Linked DNA regions of Homo sapiens: region 2 is linked to region 1. The links come from fine-mapping of genetic effects on gene expression. A gene starts in region 1. The other region holds a variant in brackets. All regions are shown on one strand. Distances are from middle to middle. Region 1 holds the start of ARAP1 (ArfGAP with RhoGAP domain, ankyrin repeat and PH domain 1). Region 2 overlaps ARAP1 (ArfGAP with RhoGAP domain, ankyrin repeat and PH domain 1).

What was found. PIP is the estimated chance that this variant, and not a neighbour inherited with it, causes the effect.
Region 2: its variant is fine-mapped to the expression of ARAP1 in blood mononuclear cells (TOPMed, PIP above 0.99).

What each region holds. Positions count from the first base shown.
Region 1 is chr11:72,747,848-72,756,355 of GRCh38, reverse strand. ARAP1 (ArfGAP with RhoGAP domain, ankyrin repeat and PH domain 1) reads left to right here and starts at 3,948. Exons shown (of 35, transcript NM_001040118.3): 1 at 3,948-4,028. It overlaps STARD10 (StAR related lipid transfer domain containing 10), which reads left to right. Exons shown (of 7, transcript NM_006645.3): 6 at 603-655; 7 at 1,214-1,627. The coding sequence ends at 1,459. RefSeq lists enhancers at 3,308-3,537, 4,148-4,267, 6,927-7,086 and a silencer at 3,808-4,097.
Region 2 is chr11:72,717,389-72,725,388 of GRCh38, reverse strand. The region is part of intron 3 of ARAP1 (ArfGAP with RhoGAP domain, ankyrin repeat and PH domain 1); the gene reads left to right. Among named protein-coding and RNA genes, the nearest start is that of ARAP1-AS2, 21 kb to the right of the region's middle. RefSeq lists enhancers at 3,023-3,092, 5,806-5,875, 6,960-7,460, 7,765-8,000 and a silencer at 6,106-6,185. The variant A/G (reference allele first, on the strand shown) is at 3,075.

The DNA of each region.
Region 1 (8,508 bases):
AGCATCCTTGCCTGGAAATGCTTCAAGCCCCAGAGCGCACAGTGGTCCAGGCCTAGCACTCCCCCGGCACCTCATTGTGTTGGGTGTCAGAGGTGGAGTGGACACTTGGGAATGAGATAGGGTGGAGAGCTGGGCAGTGGATTCCAGGTCAGGCCAGGCTGGGGTGCTCAGCCAGAGGCCTGTGTGGTCAGGGGAGGACTTGGAAGGACAGGCAGGGGAGGGGCTGAGCGTCAGGGGCATTCCTGGGAGGGAGGTTAGGTTGAGAAGGGATGTCAGTGTGATTGAGTGAGGCAGCAGGTGCAGCAGGGTGGGTCAGAGTTTCCACCCATGTATAGCCTGTGCTTACCTAGGACCCTGTGGTTTTCTTCCACGTAATCTTTGAGGCTGGGCAGAGGGAAAGTGGGGGACAGAGCTAAGCCTGAGGACTTCGGTCTGAGGTGGAAGGGAGTGAGGGTAAAGGCTTGTAGGACTTGCCTCACACACCTCCTCCTCATGGGGAAGACAGTGGCCTCCCTGGAAGCTCTGGGCAGAGGGTGGGGCTTTTGTCAGGGGCGGAGGGGCTGGGTCCCTGAGGCTGCTTCCTCCCTTCCCTGCCCTCACAGGCTCCTTACCCAAGTGGGTGGTGAATAAATCTTCTCAGTTCCTGGCTCCCAAGGTGAGTGGCCTTGGGATTTTGGGGAGGGGTGTTGAAGACTGGAAAGAGGACTATGGAATGAGGTGGGTGGAGTCAAGCCTGGAGCCTGAGGGCCAGGCGTGGTGGCTCATGCCTGTAATCCCAGCACTTTGGGAGGCCTTGGCAGGTGGATTACCTGAGGTCGGGAGTTCAAGACCAGCCTGGCCAACATGGTGAAACCCTGTCTCTACTAAAAATACAAAAATTAGCTGAGTGTGATGGTGGGTGCCTGTAATCCCAGCTACTCGGGAGGCTAAGGCAGGAGAATCACTTGAACCTGGAAGGCAGAGGTTGCAGTGAGCCGATATCATGCCACTGCACTCCAGCCTGGGCCACACAGTGAGATTCCGTCTCAAAAAAAAAAAAAAAAAAAAAAGAATGGAGAATGGAGCCTAGGGCCCAGGGAGGGCAAGTAGGGCTGAGGAGTGAAGTTTTGAAAGGGAGCCAGTCAGGATGCTGGGGGCTGAGCCGCTGGAGGGGGGTGTGGAGAAGACCTGCCCCCTAGCCACCCCCTGACCCGGCGGGGCGGCGGGCCCACAGGCCATGAAGAAGATGTACAAGGCGTGCCTCAAGTACCCCGAGTGGAAACAGAAGCACCTGCCTCACTTCAAGCCGTGGCTGCACCCGGAGCAGAGCCCGTTGCCGAGCCTGGCGCTGTCGGAGCTGTCGGTGCAGCATGCGGACTCACTGGAGAACATCGACGAGAGCGCGGTGGCCGAGAGCAGAGAGGAGCGGATGGGCGGCGCGGGCGGCGAGGGCAGCGACGACGACACCTCGCTCACCTGAGCGCCGCACCGCTTCAGGGACGGAGACAGGACCGGGCGAGCCCTGGGGCGGCGGCCGCTCCTGCACTTTCTCCCCTCCCCCACCCGGCACCTGGTGGCACCGGGCCAGGCCCAGGCGGGTGCTGCAGCCTGGCTGGACAGAGCCCCAATAAACGATCCCACAGCCTCAGCCGGCTCATCACTGTGCCTGCTTCCCACCTGCCTCATGGCCGCTGCCGCGGTCCCCTGCGTCTGCCCTTAATTTTGTTAAGGTTGTTGATCATCCGGCCGTTGATCCTTCCAGCATCTCCTCATTTCCCATTGTGTAGCGGGGAGGAGACGGGGTTTATCACTGCCCCCCTTCTGTCCATACTCTGTTCCATTCTCTGCCCGTATCTATCCAGCTGTCCTTGTTGAGCGGTCATTTTGGCATTCACGCCAGGCTATTTGCTTTCTTTTTCACTGCTTTAAGGCAGCGGTCCCCAACCTTTTTGGCACCAGGGACTGGTTTTGTGCAAGACAAATTTTCCATGGATCAGGATTGGGGAAGGATTGGTTTTGGGATGATTCAAGTGCATCACATTTATCATTAGATTTTGATAAGGAGCGCACAACCTAGATCCCTCGCATGCGCAGTTCACAATAGGGTTCTCCCTCCTATGAGAATCCAATGCTGCTGCAGATCTGACAGGAGGCGGTAATGCTAGCTCAGCCTCTGCTCACTTCCTGCTGTGCAGCCTGGTTCCTAACAGGTTCCTGACAGGACCAGTACCAGTCTGTGGCCCAGGGGTTGGGGACCTCTGCTCTAAGGGAAGGAGCAGGCCTTGACAGAGACCCTGGGTCAGGAGTCAGAGGGTGAGGTTCTACTCTGTGTCCTTCGGCCCAAGGCCCTTTGGGTCCAACCTATGGACTGGGGTCTGACACTCCTGTCATCCCAGAAGGGAGGTGGAGGGGTCCGTGGGTCTCAAGCCACAGGGCTGTGGGTCTCAGAGCTGAGGCTGGGGCAGCATACCCTGGAGGGAGGTCAAGGGTGCAGGTGAGGGGCCTCAGATTCCAGTGCAGTTGGTGGGGACCAGGCTTGGTGATTCACGCCCTCCCTAGGTCATTTTGAAGACCTCAGGACTGTGTTAACAGAAATGGTAGGGTCCCCAGACCCCCTATCCCCTTGCCAGTGGTCAGATGCCAGCCTTCTCACCCTGTGCTGCACCTCGCTGGTCTGAAGTCTAGAGGGACGCCTGGGCCTCCCCTGTGATCTGTGGCCCCCAGGTGCCCTCTGCTGCCCAAGGGACACCCCTGCTGCCAGGACCAGAGGAGGGGCCTATGCTCTGCTCCTCTGCAGTGTTTTTGACCCCATATGAACTTGGGGCCCGGAAGTTCTCCGCAAGGTCTGGCCCTGTTCTCCCCTCCCGGAAAGCTCCTTTGCCTTAGCCCTACCACCAGAAGACACGGTCTACTCAGTCAACTCTTTCCCAGAGGGACAGGGTGAATGGCCAGTGGGGGGCAGGCAGGAGATTCTAGAACTCATAAAAATGGGTTGCTTCCCAGCTTTGCCCAACACTGGCTTTGTAACTTTGGGCAAGCCCTCAGACTTCTTGGAGCCTTATTTCCTAACCCATAACCTGGGATGATAATTTTTGCCATCAAGCAGAATGTAAGGATTGAGATAAAAGGAATAAATTGCCCAGCACTGGGACTAGCATGCAGTAGGTGCTCCAATTAATGACACTTTCCTCTTCTCAGGGGGTAAACCCTCATCCCCCGCAATGTGAGATCTGTTCTTCCAAATATACCCTTTGTGCATATAAAGAAATTGAAGCCCAGGGAAGGTCTCTGGCGTGGCTGGCCCCGGAGGTGTTCTGGACACAGGACCCAGAAATGTCTGCCAAGCTTGGTACCCTCATCTGTGTATGTGCTGGGAGGATGGGTGGGAATCTCCTGTTCTCTAGGTGTGGGTGCTGGAACCTCAGGCTGCAGCCTTCCGCTGAGGGATCCTTGGGAGGTGTGGCTGGGTGGGTAGCTTCCCCACAACCCTGCCTGTGGGCACCCAGGGAGGGAAGTGAGATACCCTTGAAGAATGTGGTGGAGGAAGGATTTCCTAGAGGAGGTGGTCAGGCACCACTGACGGCCTTCAACTGCCTCCTATCCCCCTGGGGGTGTGGCCCTCTTGTGGGTGGGGTGTATGTCAGGGCAGACTCACCAGAAGAGGGGTGGCGAGAGCAGGGAGACTCAGGGAGAGGTGGACTCAGCGGGCGAGGTGGCGGGGGTTAGACCTGAGCCTCAGGAGACAGTCGGAAGACCCGCAAGCAGCTAGAGGGGCAGGAGAGAGACACAGACCGACGGGTCCGGCGGGCGGGCCAGGCCAACCAACTCCAGGACCGTGACTAGGCGGGGGGAGGGGCCGATGAGGGGGCGGGGCCCTGCCCTGCCCTGCCCCAGCCCCACCTTCCCCTCCCCGGGAGTCACGTGGGGCGGGCGGAAGCGCCCGGGGGGGTGGGCGCGCCCGGCCCCTTGCTGCAATTTGGCGGTGGCGGTGTAAGTCGGTGGCGGCGCCGGTACGCCTGGTCCCCGCGTGGAGTCTTTACTCAAAACAGGTCAGTGCGGCTGCCGGAGCCTCCCCGTCTGCAGGCCCCTCGCCACATTGGCCTGCAGTTTCCCCATTCTGCAGAAAGGAACGCCGAGGCCGCGCGCTGCTTCTGCTTCCCCGGGTCATCTTGTCTGTTTACCTTTTTGGGCGTGATGGGGGGGTCGCCTCTTGAGGATAAGCCAGCGGGCCAGAGACGGTAGGGAAGGGGGGTGAACCAGCGGGACCCGGGGCTTCCAGCCCGTAGCCCTTTGGCGTGAAGGGTCTCTGGAGTCAGCCGCCCTCGGGCGCCTTGGGGTTCCCATCTGTGAAGTGAAGGCTCCCACCTCGTTGGCCGCTGAGACCTTTACATTTCTGGAGATCTGTACGACCCTATGCCCTGGGCCTGGGGCTCCAGTGACCTTGGGCAGGCTACTTCCGGTCTCTGCATCTCAATTCCCCACCAGTAAATGGGGCATGGCTTCCCCAGAGCCCCTACCTGGCCCAGTTGCTGGTGAAAGAAAGTATGTGCTCAGGGAATGGGGTCACGCTGGGAGTGGGGTGGTTGGGCCTGGAGAGAGCAGGCTTAGGGTGCAGCCTGGGGGCAGGGGATGGGTGTTTGGTGCAGGGCCGGCGGGGAGGGGGGGAATCTGGCCAGAAGCCATCACGCTGTGGTTTCTGCTATATACCGTCCCTTCCCCCACATCCCATATCCTGGGGAGCCTTCCCTGATCCCAGATAGGTGGGAGGGGGGTGCTTCAGGGCCAGATACCTGGGGGTACTCGGAAGGATTTGACTCTTTGGTGGGTCCCAGGGTCCCAGACTGAGGCACTCATGATACCTGTTCGCGGAGAGTCCCCAGAGGCCAGGCTGGGAGAGACTGCCCAGCAAGATCATCACAGGGTAGAAGGAGCCCAGCAGAGCCTTGAAGACAGGTGTGGACAGGTGCAGGCCCCAGGGGAGGGGATGACTGGAATGGGCTTGGCAGTTAAGTGGCAATTTACAAGGATAAGGACCCTCCAAAGGCGAGGGCGTAGCTTGTGCAAAGTCAGGAATTTGGATGGTGTGTCTGAGGAATGGCAGAAAGGTGGGTGTGGCTGGCAGAGGTGTAGAGAGAACTCATCCTGTGTCCCATTCCTGGCTGGGGATTGTCAGGACTGGGCCTGGGGACCTTGCCTCCCCATTGGCTACTTGCATATTGGAGTAGTTTAGGAAGGGGGTGTCCCAGGCAGAGTACCGGTGACTGATGAGGTGGAGGGGGCAGAGGCCACCAGAGCCCTGATGGCCCCCAGGTTTTGTTTTGCATTCAAGCCTCCTACTCAACCCCAGCTTTATACCCCCACCACCTGGGCTCCAGCCATGCTTCACACATCCAGCCTCAGCTTTTTGTACAGATTGTTAATCCTCCTCCCAACCCTCTAGAAGCTTCCTCCCCATTCAAATCCCCAGGTCCTTTGGGACTTCAGGTTTCAGAGATGGGCTGCTGTTGCCCCTCCTTCCTGCCCAGCCTTCAGTCTTGTGTAATGGCACAGCTTAGGAAGGGTCTCCTTGGAGCTCTGTGGGGATGGGGCCTGCAGAGCCATGGGGATCATGGGACCTGGGGCCCCGAGTCCTTGTGCAGCCACCAATCACTATGTGACTCTACAAGTCCCCAAATTCCTCAGAGCCTCCATTTCCCCATCTGCAGGATGGAGTGATCAGCCCTGGCCTCATGCCCCAAAGAGAGACGGTGCTGGGGCAATAGTCAGGCCTATCTGCTAAGATGCTGGGGCAATAGGCCTATCTGCTAAGTCCTGTCTCCAGCATTGAGAGTTTGAATGAAAGAAAGAGAGAACCCAGGGGAAGGGGTCAGTTTAGAGGGGTTGGGGGGGTGTCTGAGAGTATCGGGGGCTAGTGGTGGACCAGGCCTAGGGCATCGGCTGGAGGTGGGGAGTCCCTTCCATTTTCCGGAGCCCTCTCTCCTTCCCACCCAACTCTCCCTTGGCTGAGCTCAAAGCCACCCGCCACTGCCCAAACAAGTGGCCTCTGTTCCCAGGGTAGGGGGAGGGGAGGCAGGCCCTGGGCTCCAGGCCCGCCTGTCCAGCGCTGACCCTGGCCCCCCGCCCCTCACTCTAGGTCTTAACCCTTGGGGGCCTGGACCGGGCCCTGGGCTCCTTGAGGGCTGGTGATTCTTGTTCACCAGCTGTCCCCTCTACCCCGCTTCAGGCTCCCAAGGGTTCTGTCACATCAGGAGGGGATGCAGTAGGAAATGGGGAAGGAAGGAGGGAACAAGGGTGGGGGACAGGCTGGAGCAGATATGGCCATGGACACTTAGAGACCATTTGGCCTAAAAGCTTCTTTCACAGATGGGGAAACTGAGGCCAAGAGCTAGAGATGAGGGTAGGATCACACAGAGACCCCTGGTGGGGGTCAGGACAGGTTCTGTCTCCTAGTCTGGCCTCTCTGGGGGAAAGGGGAGAGAGGGAGAGGGAACTTTTTTTTTTTTTTTGAGACGGAGTCTTGCTCTGTTGCCCAGGCTGGAGTGCAGTGGCACAATCTTGGCTCCACCTTCTGGGTTCATGCCATTCTCCTGCCTCAGCCTCCTGAGTAGCTGGGACTACAGGCGCCCGCCACCACACCTGGCTAATTTTTGTATTTTTAGTAGAGACGGGGTTTCACCTTGTTAGCCAGGATGGTCTCAATCTCCTGACCTCGTGATCTGCCCGCCTCAGCCTCCCAAACTGCTGGGGTTACAGGTGTGAGCCACCACTCCCGGCTGGGAGAGGGAACATTCTTTGTTGAGTACCTGCTGTGTGCTGGACACTGCACATTTGTCATCTAATGATTTACATAATTGCATAAGAGCATAAGACGACCATCACCCTCCAATATCATAGTGGAAGTAACAGCCTTAGAGAAAGCTGAGTAATAACATCAGTGAGAATGAGGTCAGCAAACATGCCTATAGCACTGTTGTAAAGTTTTATCCATATTAACCAATTCCACCCTGCCAATAACCCAAGAAATTAGGTGACATTCTACAGATAAGGAAACTGAGGCACAGAGAGGCTAAGTAACTTGTGTAAGAATACATTGGGAGGGTGGTAGAGAGACAGGGTCAGGACCCAGGTGTTCATTGCCTCCTTTGTCTGACTTCACTTTGATCTTACTCTTTGAGCACCTCCCAGGGCTGAGTGAGGTGCTTTCCCCGGGTGGTGACCGAGGCAGCCTTGAACAGTGTGTGACCCCAGCTAAGCTGACCCAGTCCCCGCTCTGGAGCAGAGTCCAGTCCCTCGGGCAGCTCTTCTCATTTCTTTCTCTGGTCTTGGGCAGGTTAGAGTCAGCACCCTCCACAGCCCTGTGCAGAGAGGTGTTATGTTTTAGAAAGGAGTTCTGTGCTAAGGGTGGCCACTCCAGGGTTCTGAACAGCATGAGGATTTGGTGGGTGGGGAGACATCCCCATCCAATGTGCATGCCCCACAAAACTCAGAGGCTGCCGCTGAATCAACCCCAGTGTCCCCAGCTCTGATCAGAGATAACATTTTTTCCACCTTCCCCTACCCCTGGCCAGGCCCCCAGACTGTATGTGCATTCCAACCAGGGATCTGAGGAGGACAGTCCCACCTGGAGGCAGATGACCCCAGATGTGAAAGATGGTGGGGGGCAATGCATGGATTGTGTTCCACATGGTCTTCCTGTGGAATGTCTCTTTTTCTCATCCTTGGGCCGTAGTACAGAGGGGAAGAGCCTGTCCCATAGTTAGGTTATCTGTCCTAGGCCACTGGGACAGTCAAAGAGTGGCTGGGAGGGGACGTGGAGTTAAGTGACCAGTTCAATAACAAATCATTTTTTTTTTTTTTGAGATGGAGTCTTGCTCTGTAGCCCAGGCTCAAGTGTGGTGGCATGATCTCGGCTCACTGCAACCTCCGCCTCCCGGGTTCAAGCGATTCTCCTGCCTCAGCCTCCCGAGTAGCTGGGATTACAGGCACGCGCCACCATACCCAGCTAATTTTTGTATTTTTAGTAGAGACGGGGTTTCACCATGTTGGCCAGGATGATCTTGAACTCCTGACCTCGTGATCCGCCCGCCTTGGCCTCCCAAAGTGCTGGGATTACAGGTGTGAGCCACTGGGCCCAGTCAACAAATCATTATTTAATAGTAGTAATAATAGTAGCAGTAGCTATTGTTTCTTGGAAGCTGACTATGTGCCAGGCAGTGTGCTAAGCACTTTATATACTGAATTCATTTAATCCTCAAAATAGTCTTCTGAGGTAGGCACCATTCCCATTTTCCACATGAGGAAACTGAGGTCCCAAGAAGTTAAGTGATTTGTCCAAGATCATCCATTACATAGAATAGCTGGGAATCTACATTTCCATTGCTTCACAGTGAAAACCACAAGCACTGGGAGGCATTGCAGACAGAGGAGATCTAAACCCAGTCCTACCCTGGGAATGCCTAGTCAGTGATAGGCAGAGACTAGAGGGCCACCTGGTCAGGTGACATTGCTGGTGACCAACTGTGGATCTGG
Region 2 (8,000 bases), 31 kb after region 1:
TCTTCTGCATGCAGGAGCGTTTTCTATTTCAACCCCATCAGCTTGTGGGGGGGAGAGAGAGAGAGAAAAAGAGAGAGAGAGAGAGAGAGAGAGGTTAGAAGAGAGAAGAGGATAGAGAAGAGAAAGTCTGTCTGTCTGTCTCTGGGGTTGGAAGTGGGTGAACAAAGGGAAGAAGCAGGGCCCTGGCCAGGTCCCCTCTCAGGCCCTTCCTGTGACTCCCGGACGGGCAGTGGAGGCCTGGGTTCCTGCTTGGGAGGCAGGATGCCTGGGTCGGGCCCAGCTAGCTTTGTGACTCTGATGAGGACCTGCTTCTCTGGGCCTGTTTCCCCATCAGGTGCCCTCTGTGGTCCTCCATAGACTTCTGGGCCCTCCTGGCACTGACATCTGAGTTCAGGAGGCTTGCTGGGTAGGAGGAAGTCCTGTCCACACCCCAGGGCTCCAGGGTACCAATGCCTACTCTCAGAGCCTGTCTGAACATAGCCATTTAGGCAACATGAGGAGGAGGCCAGGCGCCATGGTCGGGAAAAGGTCTAGCCCCTTGTAGTTTGAGTACCCAAAATCTGTTCTGTGCTAAGAGAATTGGAAGAAAAGTATTTCCTGCAATTTGGGACTATTCCTTACGGCAGAGTATGGTAGTGGGTAAGCTACCAAGCCTGGCTTCCTGTGTCCTGGGGTCTTTGGCAGTTGGAGTCATGGGCATATGCAGTCTTCAGCTTTGTACACACTCAACTCAGAGAGTGTATGGTCTTCAAAGCCCTGTGGTAGGAAAAACTCACAGCAGATGGAGCCTCATGTGTGTATACCAGGCCAAGACTGAGTGCTGTAGTGATCAGGGTGGGGGCCAACATGGACCCTGACTGGCCACCTTGTCCGCTCTCAGTCCCTTCCTGTGATCCCCAGGCTCCATGGCATGTAGAGAGGAACACTGCTCCTGCCCACCCCCGCCTTGTGGGAGTCCCATCACAGTGTCTCATGACATGGCCTTCCTACCCCTGCTTGCAACCCCTCATGATGGGGAACTCACTCTCTCAACCTTAGGGCCTTTCACACAAGGTCATGTGGTGGCTGAGGCCGGTCATCTCCAGGCTCCCCAGTGGAGCTTGGGGGTGGATGCGTGTGCATGTGTGTACTCTCAGTGTCTCGAGTCAGTGTGAGGCATGTCTGGGCCAGTCTGTGTGTGCACCCATACAGATGGGTGTGGGTGGTAGTACAAGCTGTCAGGGTAGTAGAATGTCTGTGCATTTACACATTCAGACAGGTTCTGAGAGTGTGTGCTACTAAGATGTAGAAGCATGTAGGGATTTGTGCAGTTTCAGTGGTGACATGGAGTGGTGTGTATGTGAGTTTATCAGGACCTTTGTGCTCAATTACTGCTGTGGTGGAGACCCCAACAGTGTGTGAGTACATCCGCGAGTGTGCACGTGCTGTTTGAGCAGAACATGACATTTGTGTTATTTGTGCACTGTCAGGCTTGAGCCAGTGTGTGCACGTGTGTGTACATGTGCTGCCAAGAGGGAGAGCCCATTAGGATGGCAGCTCCACTGGGGCCAGGATCCTAGTCGATTTTGTTTGCTGCAGAATCCCCAACATCTAGAACAGTGCTGGATGCCTAATAGGCCCTTGGGAAGTATATCGTGTGGGTGAGTAAATGATTGCCAACGTGAGCTTGTGTACTGGCACGTGCTGAGCTTGGGGTGCATGTGGGTAAACACGCATGTGACTCAGCACCCAGTGAGTGCCCTCAGCACAGCTGGGCCATAGGGCCCTGAGCTCACCGCCCCAGCTCCCTGTCCCCCATCCTACTACCCAACCTACGTCATCCCAGATATTTTAGGAAGGGAGAGGTCTTCAGAGGAGACAGGTGGGAAGAACGAGGCTGTGATAGGATTGTAGGCCACAGACCAAGGTTTAGGCAAATCAGAAAACAAGCAAGGATGGAGTTCCCTCCTCCTGGCCTTGGCATGGCCCAGGACTCTCAGAACCAGGCTCATGATTCTGCCTGGCCTAGGGGGACTCTACATCACCCCCAGAGTCTGCACCCCCTGCTATTATTATTATTATTATCATCATTATTATTAATAGAGACTAAGTCTCTCTCTGTTGCCCAGGCTGGAGTGCAGTGGTGCCATGATAGCTCACTGTAGCCTCGAACTCCTGGGCTCAAGCAATCCTCCCACCTCAGCCTCCCAAGTAGCTGGGACTACAAGTGTGTGCTACCACACCTGGCTAATTTTTAAATCTTTTGTAAAGACGAGGTATTCCTTTGTTGCCCATGCTGGTCTTGAACTCCTGGGCTCAAGCAATGCTCCTGCCTCGACCTCCCAAAGCACTGGGATTACAGGTGTGAGCCACTGCACTCGGCACCCTACCATTAATTTAAACTCGTGGTGGGGTGCTTGCTGAGGAGCCCAGAGATGCTGAGAAACTTGCCCAGAGTCACCCAGCCCTGCAGAAGGGAAGCCGGTGCCCAGACCCTGCCTCCTGGCTTCAGGTCAGGTCTACTCAGCTCTTAAATGCCGCAGACATGAGCCCTGTGAACTGGCTTCCCTGAGGGTGGCAGAGGGGTCGTTTCTGATGTGAGGTTCCAGGGTCATGCCGCAGATCCCCTCCCAGCTTGCTCTGGCCTTTGGTGTCCCCCTCTGATACCTGGATGCCTGGAGGCACCTCAGGAAGAAGGAGTGTGTGCCCAGAAGGCAGCTGCCCAGCTGGAGCCACACTGCCAAGGCTTCCCTCCTGTGCCCTTGACTGCCCTGCAGTCCAGCCAATCCCTGGTCTTCCTGGAGGCTGATCACTTGTTGCCAGGGCAGAACTTGCGCCCTTCAGAGAGCCTCTTTCCTAGCCTCTCTGTCTCCTTATGCGGGTGGAGTGGTGGAGAGGCCACCGCCAGGGCTTGTCAGTCAGGACTTCCTGGGCATCCACCCTGTGAGGGCCTGCAAGATCAGTGGACACTGTTGGTTGTCTCTTCCCAGCTTGGGTGGGGGTGCAGCCTGGGGGCGGGGAGGAAGTGTCTGCCCCGGGGGATTCTGGGTGACTTTTCGCTTTCTCAGTGTTTTCAGGAAGTGTGTGTGTTGGCC[A/G]CGGCTGCAGGAGGTGGGGGAGACACAAAGCAGGAAGCCTCCGGGAGACCAGAGCTGGGTGCAGACATACACACACACATACACACAGACACACAGAGTCACACACACTCACACACACTCTCTCTCTCTCTCCCTCTGTCTTTCTCTCTCTCTCTCTCTCTCTGTCCTTTCCTCCTGGACAGATCCACAGTTATACACAGAAACAAACACACACGCACGTAGAGAAGTGATTCACAAACACTTAAAGACATAAATCACAGGTGCAAAGCCATACCTGGGCTCAAAAACCTCCAAGAGAACGCAGCCTCAGACCCACCCAGGGGCCAGGGGCCAGGCTGTTTGCGAGACCAGCCCAGGCGGGACCCAGGCTTGCACGGGCAGGTACACGACATTCTTGGGCATACGCAGCCCGCCTGGCCGGAGCTGTGGGAGTCCTCAGCCCCAAGACCCAGCAGGCGTCTGAGGGTAAGCGAGGTGCCGCCGTTGCTGTTGTTGCTGTTGGGCACGTAGGAGGGAGGCCCTGGGAGGGCTGAAGTCCCTGTCTGTCACCTCTGGCCTGGTTTTCTGTGCTGCTCTCCTCCCCCTTCTCTTTTTTTCTCTTAGAGTTTTGTCTTATTTCACTTTCCCCACTTCTTCTCTTTTTCCCCTGCCTTTTCCTTTTCTCCCCTTGTCTCATCCCTCCCTCTTCCCTGGGCTTTCTAGGTCTCCACCTCCCCATACGCCTCTCCTGGGTCCACCAGGAGCCCACGGTGCCTGTTTTCTGGGCCTTTCTCAGACTCTGCCCCACAGAATACTCCTCTTTGGGGTTCTTGCCCCTTGGGGGCCTGGTGCTGATCACCTTACTTCTCTGCTCCCACCTCCCTACACCCCTCTGGGGATTCGTTGGGGAGGCTTAGTTTGGCTTATTTCACTGTCAAGTTCAAGGGTGCTGTGATTCTGAACCTCTCACCCCCAGACCAGGGTGATGGGGAGATGGTGTGCTGCTTACCCCTCCTCCCCAGGACTGGTGCTGTGGTGGGTGCTTATGGAGTGTGGGGGCTGGTCTCCCCTTTCCTGAGTTACCGTGGATCCCTAATGAATTCAACAATCCTGTGCTTGGCTTATTGGGGACATAGACCTCTAACCAAGTCCTGTCCACCCACCCGGCACTCTTCAGCCCTGCCCTGTGCCCTTGGCTCATCTTTTCCATAGGGCCCAGCGGATAACTGCACCTGCTCTTTCTGCCAGGCCAGGCCAGGCCTGGGCTGGACCCAGGAAGAGCTCAGTACTTCTGTGAGCTCCCTGAGGATGAACTTCCTCCTGCTGCTGCCCTCAGGAGCCAGCACAGGGCCAGGCCTGGGAAGCGCTTAGAGCTGCCATGGGAAAGGGGCCTCTGCCACCTCCTGCCCAGACAGCAGGGCTGGCCTGTGGGAAAGCTGAGTGTAGGTCTGGTGGTGGAAGGTCAAACAGGTTGTGTGGGCTTAGAGGAGGGAGGGAGCGGTTTGATGGACTTCCTGGAGGAGGAGGCATGCCCTGAGCACAATGGAGTTAATAATCCCAGGTCATTATATGAAAAAAAGCCCCTAGCAGAATGTTTGGCACATAGTGAGCGCTTAGCAAGTGGTAGCTGTTGTCCCAGGGAGAAGTGCTGAGAGCTGGGTGAAGGCGCGGTTGTGAGGATGGGCTCCAGGTTAACTGGGCACTGCTGTATGGAGAGTTTGGGGAGCTGCAGACCTTCTCCAGTGATGAGGATGCGAGTAGGGTGGTGGTCATTCAGTACCCACTTACTAAAGCCCCTTCTGTGCTGGGAACTGCTGGCGGCATGGAGAGGACTGGCCCTAGGGGCTCCCGGCTTGTGCAGAAGTTGAGAGAAGCAGACCGTGGACATCCCATTCTAGCAAGTGAGACCCTAGGAAGGGCTGTCTATGCTGGGGGCTAGGCAGAAGTGAACAGAGCAGAACCAGGAGAGTGCTGGAGGGGATGACCTTTGGGTCTCATGATGGAGGAGGAAGGAAGAAGCCACAGAGGAAGCAGGAGGCATAGGACTGAGGCCCGGGCCCCTGAGAGTCCAGAGCATGATTGAGGAAGCGGGCAGCTGGGACAGTTTACCCCTGTGGAATGGAGACATCAGGGTGGGACACAGATGTCCACAGATCACTGGGCCGGCAGCCCTGATGGTGAGAGTCCAGGGGCTGGGATTGGGCCAGGTCCCTCCAAGACCTGTGTGACATCTTGTGGGGAGGTGGTGACTCTAGGATGGGGTTAGGTCTGGGTCCTCAGTCCTCTGAGGCAGTTCAGTGAAGCACACATTGATATGACCATATTGAGTGATCAGAATTGTGGGGAGCCCCAGGGAGGCCCCAGATCAGCCTGAGATGTGAGGGGAGGCCTGCGATAGTGGGGAGGATGGATGTATGATTTGGGCTTTTTATAGGAGGACTAGGAGTTGGCCAGGCAGGGGAGGGTGTTCCAGGTGGAAGGAACAGAGTATTAAAGGCCTGTAAGTATGCACTGATAGACTGCAGCTCAGTCAGGGAGGGCTGGAGTGTGAGTAGTGGGGTGAGTCCAGGGTCAGCCTGAGATATGCAGACTGCTCCACTCTGTGGCCTTCCTTCTCTCACAGTGACACCTGGTTCTTTCGGCCAGAGATTGGTATAGACAGAAAGATAGGAACGGGTAGGGGTGAAGGAGAAGGAGGTGGCATTAGAGGCCGCTAAGGCTATGAAGCTGGTTCCTGGCTCAGCCTGTAGGGCCTGGGTCTCCTTCAAGGTGAAGAGGTTCTGTTGATGCCATGTGCAAGTGGCCCTCCTTTACTGAATTATCAGTAAGCCTGGAGACTGAGGCTCGGAGAGGAAGGGACCTGCTCAAGGTCCCAAACCAATGAGTTGAGCTGAGTTCAAGCCCAGGTCTGCCTGGCTCCAAGCCCTGTCTCTAGTTAATTGAGTAACCACACATCTCATTTGACGTGGGACAGGCCCTGTTTATGCCTGCTGCCCTGACATAGTTATTAATAGTGCCTCTTTTAACTCTTAGAAGTGTTTGTGGTTTATACAATGAATTATGTGGTCATGGGTAAGAGGAGGGTGACCTTGGGCAGGGCAGTGATGTGTTCCCTCTCAGATGAGTCCTGAGACCTGGTGGCCCATGGGAGGAGACTGGCCTCAGAGAAGCCCTGGGACCCTGGCATGGCCTTGTTTGCTCGGCTGTGGTGCTGGGCTGCCAGGGTTCAAATACCAGCTGTGGCATCAAGAACAAATAATCCAACATCCCTGTGCCTCGGTTTCCTCCTCTGTAAAGTGGAATCATCACGAGCCTTACCTTACAGAGCACTGTGAGTAGATGAATGAAGAATCCATGTCAAGTGCTCAGAAAATGCCTGGGAACACATACACGTAGACACGCACACACAGAGTTAATGAATCCAGGTGTTTGTAAGTCCCTGCTGAGTGCTGGAGATACCCCAATGAGGATGGGATGTCCATGGTCTGCCTCTCAACTTCTGCACAAGCTGCACCCTCCTCTTACCCATTCTGCATTTTGCCTACCCACCATGTCACCTAACCCCCAGGCATGAGGTCTGCTGCATGTATTTTCTCTGATTCTATAAAATAGATTTAGGCTGAGGGCCCAGGCTGGGGTGAACCAACCCCTTAGCTGCCCGGGGTGCCTAGTCTCTCGGGAATAGTGGGTAAGCAGGTGGGTTCACATGCCCCTTGGGTAGAGGGGAGAGGGAGCTGCAGTGCGGGGTGAGTGGGGAGCAGCTCTGTGGGAGAATCTTGGAGGTTGCCTAGAGGAGGAGGCCGGCTGAGCTGCATTTTGAGGTGGAGGTGGGCTTCTGTGGGCTACGGGAGGGAGAGGGCAGAGGAGGATGAAACTGTGTGAAGGCTTGGAGGTGGCGCCATTGAGGACGTGGTCCAGTGGGTGACAAGTCAGTGGGTGACATCCAAGCCGGGCCTCAGCTGGACCTCGGGATTGGAGCGGGGCCTACTCTTAGGGGTGCAAGCAGTGAGAGGCTGGGACTTGGGCTATGGCGGGGGCATTCTGTGGGCCCTGTTCTCGGTAGGGGGTCACTGCCTTTTCCCTGGGGTTTTCCCACATGTTGTGCCTTCCTGAAAGCACTTCTCCTTTCCTGGGCTCCGTCCTGACTCAGCAGTGCCCTGATACCCTGTGGTAAGCAGGCAGGCAGGGAGCAGCCAGGAGACTTCCTGGAGAAGGTGGCTAGAATTTCCCAGATGCTTCCGAGAGGCCCCTGTGTTCCACCTTCGTGAGACACGGTCCCTTCCCTGTGGAAGCTCTGCTGGGAGAGGAGCCCTTTGCATCTGTTTCCCTCTCCCTTCTTGCCGTGGGCAGGGCAGTGATGTGTTCCCTCTCAGATGGGTCCTGAGACCTGGCTGCCCATGGGAGGAGGCTGGCCTCAGAGGAGCCCTGGGACCCTGGCATGGCCTCATTTGCTCAGCTGTGGTACTGGGCTGCCAGGGTTCACATCCCAGCTGTGGCACCAAGAACAAATAACCTAGCATCCCTGTGCCTCGGTTTTCTCCTCTGTAAAGTGGAATCATGACAAGCCTTACAGAGCGCTGTGAGTAGATGAATGAAGAATCCATGTCAAGTGCTCAGAAAATGGCTGGGAACACACACATGTAGACACGCATACACACAATTAATGAATCCAGGTGTTTGTAAGTCCCTGCTGAGTGCTGGAGTTACCCCAATGAGGAAGGAGGGTGTGGAGCTTGCTTCAGGGAACGTGCCTGCTGCCCAAGATGCACAGACCCGTCGCAGTTGATCAGGACAGTGATGGGAGATGCACTGTGGTGCCAGAGGAGGGGGGCTGATGCTGCCGGACCCCAGGGATGCGGACGAGCAGGTGGGCAGTTTTTATTTATGGTTACCACCTTCCCCTCAGCTCTGGCCCTCAGACCTGGGGGAGCTTTGGGAGCCAGGCTC